3 linked regions of the Homo sapiens genome follow. The protein of the gene in region 2 interacts with the protein of the main gene of each other region in a pairwise test. Each region holds a gene or a part of one and is shown on either strand. Other genes may lie near its edges.

The links.
Region 1: the proteins of TTYH2 (region 2) and GRM1 come close enough for resonance energy transfer, tested with the Homo sapiens proteins (one large-scale study listed by BioGRID).
Region 3: the proteins of TTYH2 (region 2) and PDGFRA come close enough for resonance energy transfer, tested with the Homo sapiens proteins (one large-scale study listed by BioGRID).

The regions. Positions count from the first base shown.
Region 1 is NC_000006.12:146,395,975-146,399,621, reverse strand, and holds part of GRM1 (metabotropic glutamate receptor 1 isoform alpha precursor), read right to left. Parts: intron 854-3,647; coding exon 1-853. UniProt on the Homo sapiens protein: G-protein coupled receptor for glutamate. Ligand binding causes a conformation change that triggers signaling via guanine nucleotide-binding proteins (G proteins) and modulates the activity of down-stream effectors.
Region 2 is NC_000017.11:74,212,087-74,216,389, forward strand, and holds the start of TTYH2 (protein tweety homolog 2), read left to right. Parts: upstream 1-1,484; 5' UTR 1,485-1,501; coding exon 1,502-1,630; intron 1,631-3,543; exon of another isoform or gene 3,544-3,560; coding exon of another isoform or gene 3,561-3,626; intron 3,627-4,303. UniProt on the Homo sapiens protein: Calcium-independent, swelling-dependent volume-regulated anion channel (VRAC-swell) which plays a pivotal role in the process of regulatory volume decrease (RVD) in the brain through the efflux of anions like chloride and organic osmolytes like glutamate.
Region 3 is NC_000004.12:54,270,660-54,274,306, forward strand, and holds part of PDGFRA (platelet-derived growth factor receptor alpha isoform 1 precursor), read left to right. Parts: coding exon 1-89; intron 90-1,734; coding exon 1,735-1,861; intron 1,862-2,877; coding exon 2,878-3,071; intron 3,072-3,647. UniProt on the Homo sapiens protein: Tyrosine-protein kinase that acts as a cell-surface receptor for PDGFA, PDGFB and PDGFC and plays an essential role in the regulation of embryonic development, cell proliferation, survival and chemotaxis.

The sequences.
Region 1 (3,647 bases), on a different chromosome or scaffold from region 2:
CCAACATGCATGCGGACAACATCAGAGGTGGTGAAGGCACTGCGGACATTCCTCTCAGGCTTGGCAATAATGATGTACATCTTGGGAGTGAACATGCACCCCAGAGCCACTGTTACACTGAGACTCACTGCAAAGCAAGTTGTGATGATCTTGTAGTTGCTCCCAAAGTAAATGGGCACAAAAGCTAGCCAGATGATACAGGTGGTGTACATGGTGAACGCGATATATTTGGCCTCGTTGAAGTTGGCGGGCACGTTGCGGGTCTTGAAGGCATAGTAGGTACAGCTCATGATGAGGAGTCCATTGTAGCCCAAAGGGGCCACCACACCCAGGTTGCTGGTATTGCAGATAAGGTAGACTTCCTTGATACTTGGGTAGGACAGAATGGGCATAGGGGGTTCCATGATGATCAGGGTTACCACCAGGGTTAGTTGCACACTAATCAGAATTGAGGCAATGATCACCTGAGCCCAGGCACTCATGAACCTGGGCTTCCGGGTGCAGATCTTCTTCTTGCTGCCAGCCAGGATGCGTGCAATACGATTGGTTTTAGTCACTAAAGCAGAGTAGCACATCGCAGAGGAGAGGCCAACCAAGAGGCGCTGGAGGTAGCAGGAGGTGGTAGTAGGTTTGGCAATGAGAGTGAATGGGCACACATAACCAAGGAAGATGCCAGCTAGGATGATGTAGCAGAGCTCCCGACTGGAGGATTTGACCACTGGTGTGTCCCGGTACAGTACAAAGATTAGGGTGACAAACAAGGTAACAAGGATTCCCAGGCATGAAAAGGCGATGGCTATAATGGATTCGATGTTGCTCCACTCAAGATAGCGCACAGGAATGGGCTCACAGCCTGTGATGAGAAAAATCATTTGAGCATGAATCCAAGGTTTCTGCTAGGAATAACAACTTGCCTATTAATTACCAGAGACACAGTCATCTTTGCATCCTTCATGATTTACAGCATTTAATGCTTTTTTAAAAATGCACACTATTACACAAATAAAGATACATCATTGTCTTACCTGGACAATTATGTCCCCAAACTTAATCTTATTACAAGCCTAATGTGACATACTTGAACCTATAAAAATGATCTTTTCTTCCAACATCAGCATTATAAATAGATGTCATTCTGTGAATGGGACTCGGTTCTACATGTTCAGAAAAAGAAAACACCCAAATAAAACTTTATTTCCAGTGAGGGTTAAATGGTGATAATGGGATAGAATAAATTATTAAGAAATAAACTAACAAAACTTTTCTTTTGATGCAGCCATTGTCTGTAGGCAAGTCCAGCTCATAGACAAGTCGTTTTTGGCCAGCAGAGTGTTTTCAATGTAAATTTCATGGACTTCTTTAGAAGAATCTGCATTCTCCTGTTTCCTGCATAACTCTATATTATACCTTAAATCTCACTCTTCTCATGAATCATGAATGATCTGTATCTGAAACCTGAGGGCCTTTGAGTTAGTAACCTCTAGTGGACATATCCAGGAAGAATGAAATCTCCCCTAACCCATCTCTTGAAAGGAAAGACTAGAATTTGTTCCTAAATTCCTGGCTTATCTTTTCCTTCTAGATGGAGAATAAAATGTATTTTGTATTTCAGAGTGAGAGAAAAATTTGTCAGGCTCTGGGACAACCCCTTCACAGAATTTTGTAATCACAAAATATTTGGTCTGGGCCAATATTTCCCAAATTGTGAGAATAAAGTCATTTCCATAAATTTAGGAAAAGACTCATTGTTCTGTAGCCATGGCAACAAGGAACCACCAGAACCAGTGCTAAACCTGTCAGTCAATCAACAACTTGCCTCAGTGAACATGTGTTTGGATGCCAAGCAAGCACTGTCAGCCCTTACTTCTGATAATCACTCAGGCAGGATCAGAATCACTTCAATAAATGAGTGCCAACTAATCAACAGTCTCATGTGAGTAATCGTATTGCTACAGGTGATGTCAACCAGCTCTCAGAAGCTGCAAGGTTTTCAATCCCTAAACTCCACACTTTCTAAAAACTCCATATAAAATGAATAGTCTTCTGCTCAGAGAAAATGTATCTGCCTAGCATAACTATCCCTTACTATAGTAAGCAATTTGTTTAGCTTTTGTGCTTTTTTTTTTTTTTTTTTTTTCTTTTTTTTTTGAGACGGGGTCTCACTCTGTTGCCCAGGCTGGAGTGCAGTGGCGCAATCTCAGCTCACTGCAAGCTCCGCCTCCTGGATTCACGCCATTCTCCTGCCTCAGTCTCCCGAGTAGCTGGGGCTACAGGCACCCGCCACCATGCCCGGCTAATTTTTTGTATTTTTACTAGAGACGGGGTTTCACTGTGTTAGCCAGGATGTTCTCGATCTCCTGATCAGCCTGCCTCGGCCTCCCAAAGTGCTGGGACTACAGGCATGAGCCACCACACCCAGCCAGCTTTTGTGCTTTTTAAAAAAAATTTTATGTATTTAGTCTCACCATGTTTCATATTTCTAGAGGCTTCACCAAGATAATTTTGAAGACTCCTTATTTGATAACATTCCAGGAGATGCTCTGATCAACAGGGTCACTCACTGGACCCCCTCGTGCCCGCATTCTGTCCTTCCCATGTACTAGCATGAGAGTCATTCTCAATAATTTTCTCACTCTGGCTAATTTTACTGAGCTCTTGTTGCTGAATTTATGTAGTTGTCCTAGGATTTGTAATCATGTAGGTCTTTATATAGAAGGCACTTAAACTTAGGTCTTTGTGTAAGGTTATTTCACCTGTATCTTTATATATTAAGTCATATAACCTTTGGTTTTGAAATGCACCATTTGGTAATTAGACATAAGCTTTTTATTATGTCAATAAATAGTTCACTTTAGAGATACACAATTTGATAAATATTTTTTTCCATATCTGTTTATTCCCTTGCTGTTTCTTTGCTTTTGCTGTTATTTACATACATACACAAAGTCTTATTTTATGGGTCTTTTTTGTTTGTGTGTTTGTTTCGTTTTGAACCATATTTTTCTGTTTTGTTTGTGTGTTTGTTTTGTTTTGAATCACCTTTTTCTGTTGACAATATAAGGGATAGTTCATAAACATTAGAGGAACATGTAAGCCTAAGAAGTGTCCAATCCAAGCTGGCCCTGAGTGCTAATGTTTGGAGCTCCTTTAAATTGATAACCAATTTGCCAAAAGTGGTAGGTCACTCAGCCTTAGGTTTCTTAGAAAACCTTTACAAGAATACTTCCCGTGTTGTCAACTTATGAAAGATCACTTTATTTTAGTGATTGTGTGTTGCCTTCCTACACTCCGTTTGCTTTGGGAATCTAAGACACCATTGGCAAGCACACACTTTTGACAGAACTTAGTGGCCTCTCTTCCTTGTGTATCAGAGATTTGTCTCTGTCTAAATACAAACCTTTTTCTGGAAGAACTTATTCTTCCTATATAAAGTCACATACTAATCCTAATTTTATTTTTGTTTTCCCAATGCAGGCAAGACAGATGATACATAGATGATAAATATATATATATAGACGATAGATAGATAGATAGATAGATAGATAGATAGATGATGGATAGGTAGGAAAATAGATATTTAAAATAACATTGGCCATATGGGAACTAATTTATGATGAAATCAATAAATTAAAATATTTACAAGGAGC
Region 2 (4,303 bases):
TTTATCCATTACTGTATCCTCTAGAACAGAGAACGTGCTCAAGAAAATTTGTTGAAAGACACCCCAATGAGAGAAGAATGGCTGTTTCCAGCCTTCCGGGCCCCTCAGCTTTGGGCTCCTGCAGGGCCCCAGAACCGTGGGATCACGGCCACGAGGAGAGGCCCCGAGGCCAGGACTTCCTCTAATGGACACAGGGCCTTTGAGCACCGGGTGACTGGGGCCCCACTCCCCAGCAGCCATATGTGTTTGCGAGCGTTTTCAGTCGGTCCGCATCCACCCGGTCCCTTCAGCCAGAACCCTAGGAGCCCCGCCCCGTCCTCCCGGGGCTCCTTTCTCACCCGCGTCCCTGCCGCGGTGGATACGCACCCCTCAGGCTGGCTGCCCAGCGCGGTTTCCACGCCCAATCTGCCGCGACCCCATCACTCCACCGCACCTACCCCTGACTCCTGCTTGTCCTGCAGCCTGGGCTCCTCCCTCCGCTGGCCAAGTCACGCCAAGCAGTTTGCGGTTACAGGACGGGTGGGGGCCTCTGCATATGTGCAGAGTACGGAGGGCCCAGGGACGCGAGGCTCCCCGATGGGCAACCTCCCCTGCCTTTGCTTTTCCCCAGAGCCCCCTCCTGGCCTGCGTTCGGCATCTTCTCGGGTCGTCATCGCCCTCTGCGGTGCCTGCGCTCGGGGTGAGGGTTTTTGTCGGCTTTTGTTACATCACCGATGTAACAGTGCCTGGACGTAGTAGGTGCTCAATAAATATGTTGTTGAATGCGCTTCAGTCTCCCCGAATGCTTGTCCCTTCCGGGCGCTCTCATCGCTCTCCTACCTTCCCCGCTACACAGCTCGAAGGTCCCCTCCTCCGGGAAGCTCACCCTGTCCCACTTGCCAGGAAGAATCAAGCAAATTTTCTGAGTGAGACACCTTGTCCTCACTCAGGCGTCCTGCAGGCGGCTTCAGCGAGTTGTTGGGGCAGATGCGCCGGGAGCTCCCGAGGGCAGGGACGGCGTCTTATTTCTCTTTTTAAGTCCACAGGGCTTGCACAATAGATGCCCAAAAAATGAGAGTGAATTTAGAATGAGTGACCGAGTGGCTGAAGATTGCCTCCTTCCTTTCCCAGTCTGTCGGTTACTTACCCTGTGACAAGCCCTTGGGACGGGCAGTCGCCCCTCTCTGGCCTATGACTGCTGGCTGCCCCCACTGACACCTTATACCCTTGATCTGATCATAAATAAGAAGCAGCCCGGGGACCTCGAGACTGAAACTGATTTAGAGACTTCTGGGAGCTTTTTTCACTTCCCTCCTCCCATCCGGCCAGGACAGATCCCCGCCCAGAAAGGGGCTGTTGACTGCAGCGGGCTGCGCGCCCAGAACTGGGACTGGGATCGCGGCGGGGCGGGGCGGGCGCGGGCCCAGGGAGAGGCGGGGCCGGGGGCGGGGCGGGCACGGGGCCCCGGCCGGGAGGTGAGCGCAGCTGTCGTTCAGCTTGTGGGTAGCACTCGGGCCGAGCCATGCAGGCGGCGCGCGTGGACTACATCGCTCCCTGGTGGGTCGTGTGGCTGCACAGCGTCCCGCACGTCGGCCTGCGCCTGCAGCCCGTGAACAGCACCTTCAGCCCCGGCGACGAGAGTTACCAGGAGGTAAGTTTACGCCGCCCCAGACCGCAGCCACGCGCGCCCCAAGTCCCCGCACTACCCCCTCTCCCCTCGAGAGCCTGCACTTTCCCACGTGCCTCTCAGACCCCTTCTCTCCCCGCGCAGCCCTTTCCCGTCTCCCCTCTCCCCTTTTCCCCCACCCTCCCAGGCCCGTGGCCCGCGTCCCCTCCTGTCTGGGAACCTGGGGGCCGGGAAAACTGAAGAGATCAGAGTGAAGCGAGCGTGGGGAAGGGGAGGAAGGGCGCAAGACCGCCTGCGGGGTGAGGGGCTGAACGCTGAGCGGGCAGGGCGGCGCGGGGGAGGGGTAAGGACAGGGGCATTCGTCTCGGGGTAATCCTGGCGCGCGAGGTGCGGGGATGCTGAGGGGTGCCCCGAAGTTTTCGACCGTCTGAGATTCCAAGATGGGGCGCTCTCTTTCCGGGGCTGAGTGGCCTAGGAAAGTTTGGCAGAAACTGAGTAGAGTCTCCCGAGTCGGTCTTCGCAGCACCCCTCCTCCCCAGCCCCGGCCTGCAGGGTGGGAGTCTCAGCTGGAAGGCTGCAGGGCTTGGGGAAGCGGTGTGGGTCACTTCCCCTCTAGCGCAGAGAACCCACAGCTGCTTGCGCTTGTTCCAGGGAAGGAAGGTGGCCTCCGTCAGCCCATCTCACACTGTTGTCCTGAGGACCCCCTTGCATTGACAGTCAGCTTCTCTGTGTCCCCTGGTCCTAGACTGGCCCATTCCTGTTCCCCCACGCCCCTCTCTCTACCTCACACCTTTAAGCCCTGAATTTCTGGCCTAGGGCAGTCACTCCCGGCTTCCCCGCCCTTTCCCTACTCTGCTGACCCTTGGCAGGATTCTGCACCCCACAAACAGGGCCAGGGCTCCCCAGACCTCCCTGCCCAGACAAACAAAGCTGCAGAATCTCCCAGCCCGTCTCAGGTCTGGTCACGCCTGCTCTGGCCCCGGGAGCCCACCTGTATCAGTTCCTTGTGTTGGGTCAAAGATTCTGGGGCCAGTGGACCAGGATGAGGTCCATTTATTCAGAGCCAGGCGCCCATCTCAGGACTTTGGCCCCCGGCGGCCTCTCCCTGTGTCAAGTTCTCCAGATATGGGACAGATCAGGGCAAAGCAGGGCCTCTTGGAGGGAATCCTGATCCAGTGTGAGGTGCCCAAGCGCCAGTGACAGGGAGTCTAATAATAACCCCTGACGACCCGGCTGCCATCAGGCCCAGGCAGATGGTGCCTGCCCTACCAGAGGGAGGGGAGCATCAGGACCCCTTCCTGGGGTTCAGTGGGCACTCAGGAGCAAGACGGCAGTCGGTGGACCCACCCCCCTCCCCCAGAGCCCAGCCTGTGGGAGTCTGTGTTCCCTGAGAATGTGGCTGCCTGGGGATAGCTCCAGGGAATCTTCCTCTCCCAGAGAATGCATGAAAAGAGGCGGATATGATTTCAGAAACAGCCGTGTGTGTGTGTGTGTGTGTGTGTGTGTGTGTGTCCCCATCCCAAACCCTGTGCCCCACATCCCACACCCGGGGTCTCCAGCCATAGTTTTCTCCTCTCCACTGGAGGAAATCTAAACTTTTCATTGGGTCAAGAAGACCCCTAGGTGGGGGTAGGGATGGTAAGGGGACTCCCTCACCCTGATGGCCCCAGAGACAGTTCCTATCAGCCCAACAGCTGTGGCTGGTGGATCCTGGGCCTGCCCACAGCCCCCTCAGTCCCATGGGCAGGTGGCAGTTGAGCCAGATGAACCTACCTCCAGCCTCTGCCCCTCCTCCCAGGATTCTGGCCCCGGCTCACTTTGTGCTGGGCATCAAATGGTTCCAGAGGGTGTCCCTTCCCATCGGCCACTGCTCCTGGGCAGCTGACACCAGCCCTGCCCACTGGCTCCTGGTCCCGCTCACCCCCTCACCACCACTCAGATCGCTGAGTAGGAGATGAGCGTGGTGGGCCAGGACCGGAAGTCTGGCTCTGGGTGTTATTTAAGGTGGCTCCTGTTTTTGGTAAGTTCCCCTGTTGTGACCACAGGTCTCTCCTGGATGTCTTCTTTCCTCCTGAGCACCAGTCACTAACAGAGTCAGGTGGACCGTCGGTCATCCCAGTCTTCAGCAAGCTTGACTGGAGCAAGTGCTATGCCAGGCGTGGGGTGACCGTGGTAACCAAGGCAGCAGGTCTTCAGGAGAAATTGCTGGGGATTTTCTGCGGCTGGGCTCTGGGCGCAGTGCTATGGCAGACACCAAGCAGTTTGAGGTGGGGCTCTGCCCTCCAGTTGGCTGGGGTGGATTCCCAGTTCTTTCCATGTGTGACCACGGGTAGGTGTCTTAACCTCTCTGAGCCTTGTTCCCTTCATCTGCAAGAATTAGATGAGATATTCCACATATCATGCCTAGTACAGAGAGTCCCATAGCACATAACAGGAGCCAGTGACACAGATCATTCAATGGAGTGGCTGAGAGGTTCAGGAGTGTGTCTCAGGACAGTACCCTGCTGGGGAATGGAGAGGAAGGAGATCTCTTCCACAGACTCTGATTGGGGGAGACTGAACAAAACGCCTGCAGAAAGGGCTTCAGCTCATGCCCCACATGTTCAAATGCACAGTGCTGGCTGTGTGGGGTGTGGGGGGTGGGTGCGTGTGCATCAGAGACTAAGCAAGGATGGAAACAGGCAGGTGCTGGCCTTA
Region 3 (3,647 bases), on a different chromosome or scaffold from region 2:
TGCTAAGGAAGAAGACAGTGGCCATTATACTATTGTAGCTCAAAATGAAGATGCTGTGAAGAGCTATACTTTTGAACTGTTAACTCAAGGTATGTAAAGGGAGTATAAAGATAATGCTAGCTCTGTAGATGAGTGTCTTCCAAGGAAAGCCTGGCACTTTTCTCCCCGGTCATGGAAGAAAAGCAGCACTTAGGGGAGAAGCAGTGTCTGCATATGTCACATATCGGGAATACCTCTGCTGGACTCATGAATTCAGGTATTTCTGGGAGGTTCTGGGTTACTCTAGAGTAGGCGAGGAATCCCTAGGCTCCACCAGCTAGCTTTATTTTTGTAGAGATGGAGTCTTGCCATGTTGCTCAGGCTGGTCTCCTGGGTTCAAGCTATCTTCCCACCTTGGCCTCTCAAAGTACTGGGATTACAGGTGTGAGCCACTGCACCTGGCCTCCACCAGCTTACTTAGCACCTGCTTCTCAATCTGAGAAGAGAGAAGCAGATGACCTTAGATTGTTCTGGAGAGTTTTGCTACAAGTTTTCCTTATAGACATTGTACAGTGGTCCTTACCAGAAGGGAGTGCCCAAGTCTGTTTACATTCAGGCTCAGCACCTATCCAGAGTCCCAGCCATGAGCCAGGTGCTGTCTGAGGTGCGCTCATGTGATCCTCACAGTAAAACCTGTGATACAAGCAACACCGTATATCTAATTTATTTGACCACAGATTTAGAAAAGAATCTTTAAAACCTAATAACATACCACAGATGCATTTTGGTAAATGCTGCTTTAGATTATACTTTAGCTGAATCCATTAGTTGAATCCTAAGCTATAATATAATTTTAAGAACCTCCTTGCCTTTCAAGCCAAATAACCAAGGGACTTTCTCTCTCTCTTTCCCTCCCTCCCTTCCTTCCTTCCTTCCTTCTTCTCTCCCTCCCTTGTTATCTCTTTTCCTTTCCTTTCTCTCCTTCCTTCCCTCTTCCCTTTTTCCTTTCTCTCCTTCCTTCCTTCCTTGCTTCCTTCTTCCCTCCCTCCTTTGTTCTCTCTTTTCCTTTCCTTTCTCTTTTTCTTTCCTTCCTTCCTTCCTCACTCACTCTTTTCTTTTCCTTTCTCTCCTTCCTTCCTTCCTTCCTCCCTCCCTCACTCTCTCTTTTCTTTGCCTTTCTCTCCTTCCTTCCTTCCTTTTCCTCCCTCCCTCCCTCCCTTGTTCTCCCTTTTCCTTCCTTCCTTCTTTCCTTTCTTCCTTCCTTCCCTCTTCCCTCACTCTCTCTTTTCCTTTCTCTCCTTCCTTCCTTCCTTCATTCTCCCCTCCCCTCCCCCCTCCCCTCCCCCTCCCCTCCCCCCTCCCCCCCTCCCCTCCCCTTCCCTTCCCTTCCCATTTTTCTTCTCACCATGTTGCCCAGGCTTGCCTCAAACTCCTGGGCTCAAGTGTTTCTCTTCCACCTCAGCCTCCCAAGTAGCTGGGGCTACATGTGTGAGGCATCACAACCATGGACTTTTCACTTTCTTCACTCCAGGTTAAAAACATCACAGGGATAAATCTCAAAACACCAAAACTGTGAAAATGCTGCTAACCATGTGGGTCTGTCTAAACTGGAGTGTTACTTGTACAACTGGTTTCAGCCCCTCCGGAGTGTTTTGAATGCCATGTAGATGAGTTGTGAACTCATATTCCACTTTGTAGTCTCATATGTTCTGGGACACGAGCTATTCCATTCTGACTTCTTTCTGCCTCTTGCAGTTCCTTCATCCATTCTGGACTTGGTCGATGATCACCATGGCTCAACTGGGGGACAGACGGTGAGGTGCACAGCTGAAGGCACGCCGCTTCCTGATATTGAGTGGATGATATGCAAAGATATTAAGAAGTATGGAAAACAGATGTGTCTTCTTCTTTCGTGGTCAGAATATTTCTCCCTTGACACAAATGATGTCAAATACATTTTACTTATTGACTATAAGATAGGGTTTTGGGTGTGATAGCTTCAGGGTGTGTATCTTTTGTCATGAATAGCTGTGAGAAGAAGGTCCAGGGCTCTCATTAGACCTTCAAAATGTCTCCAATCTAAAAACAAGAGTGAATTTTAAGAACCACTGTTCTAAGAAGATTTTTACTACCCTGGCTCACATATCTTATTTGGTGAACTTTGTTTGGTAGTCGGACTGCATGTAAACATAAATGTGACTGCTTAGTCCCTTATCTGCCCACCTGCTGTTTGGTGGGTTAATTCGCCATTCCCTCCTCCCTCCCCCGAGTCCTCAGCCTTCTTAAATGGGCACATGAGCAATGTGTTTACACTTCATCCATGGTAACTGGTTGTGTTCAGAAGCCTCAGTTGTTTCTTCCTCTAGACAGAGACTCCTCATCTTAACTTCTAGGGCTAAGAACAGACTTGGATGTTGACTGGGGTTTCTAGTAGATTCCAGTGTGGAGCAGGATTCTAGGTCTTATAACTCAATCTGAGGATCATCGCAACCCTAGTGACACCCTAGGGGCTCTTCCCAGTGTGAGTGTTGAGAAGGGAGGGCTCCAGGCCTTTTTGAAGGGGTGGGAGATTGAGATCATTAAATATGGTTGAAGTTGAACTGTTCAGTTTGCTCATAGGTTCAAGATTGGGGAATGGTAGTCATATTTTATTAAACTTGATTATCTCTGCCTGCTATGTAAACACTTAGCTTTCAGTTGTTCATGTGTGAGTTATTCCCTCTTCAGCACATGCAGACAAGTTTTAATGTTCATCTGCATGTAAAATAAATCAGTGTGTATTGCCCCGAAATGCAGACAAGGTCCCAACTCCTTGCCATCTTAGAGTGTTCCCGTGGCTCCACTCATTGCCATGACTCTCAGGAATTGGCCCTATACTTAGGCCCTTTTTCTCTCTAGATGTAATAATGAAACTTCCTGGACTATTTTGGCCAACAATGTCTCAAACATCATCACGGAGATCCACTCCCGAGACAGGAGTACCGTGGAGGGCCGTGTGACTTTCGCCAAAGTGGAGGAGACCATCGCCGTGCGATGCCTGGCTAAGAATCTCCTTGGAGCTGAGAACCGAGAGCTGAAGCTGGTGGCTCCCAGTGAGTTCCTCAACAGTCAGGACAACTCATCAGCTGAGCCGCATCTGCCCCAGGCGGAACTTTGAATCCCAGATAGGGGTTATATAGAAATGAAGGTCCCAAGGCAGAAATTCAGTTATGAATGCTCTTAAAGTCATGTGGGACTTTGTTTTATTTTGTTTTGTTTTTTGAGACAGAGTTTTGCTCTGTGGCCCAGGCTGGAGTGCAATGGCACAATATTGGCTCACTGCAACCTCTACCTAGGACGTTGTTTTAGATTCAGATCCAAAACTGCATTTTTGCAGAGGCCCCTCAACATTTTGCTTGTCTAATAATATAGCTACAGTCTCTACTTTGAATGTCTGTGTATGTGGATGGAGTGTGGGGAAGGATCTTCTGTCTCATTGCTCCTTAAAAGATAGATGAAGCCAAAAGCAATATAAGCAAAATGCAACTTACAAAATAAGCTTTATAATAAAGCATATGAAGTAGAGGTGTCTGCCCATATAGTAGCTGTCAATTGCATTTATCCTATTCAAATTCTGTCCACAAGGTTACTGTTGGAGCAACTTTGGAGAAAATACTGAGTTCTCCTGA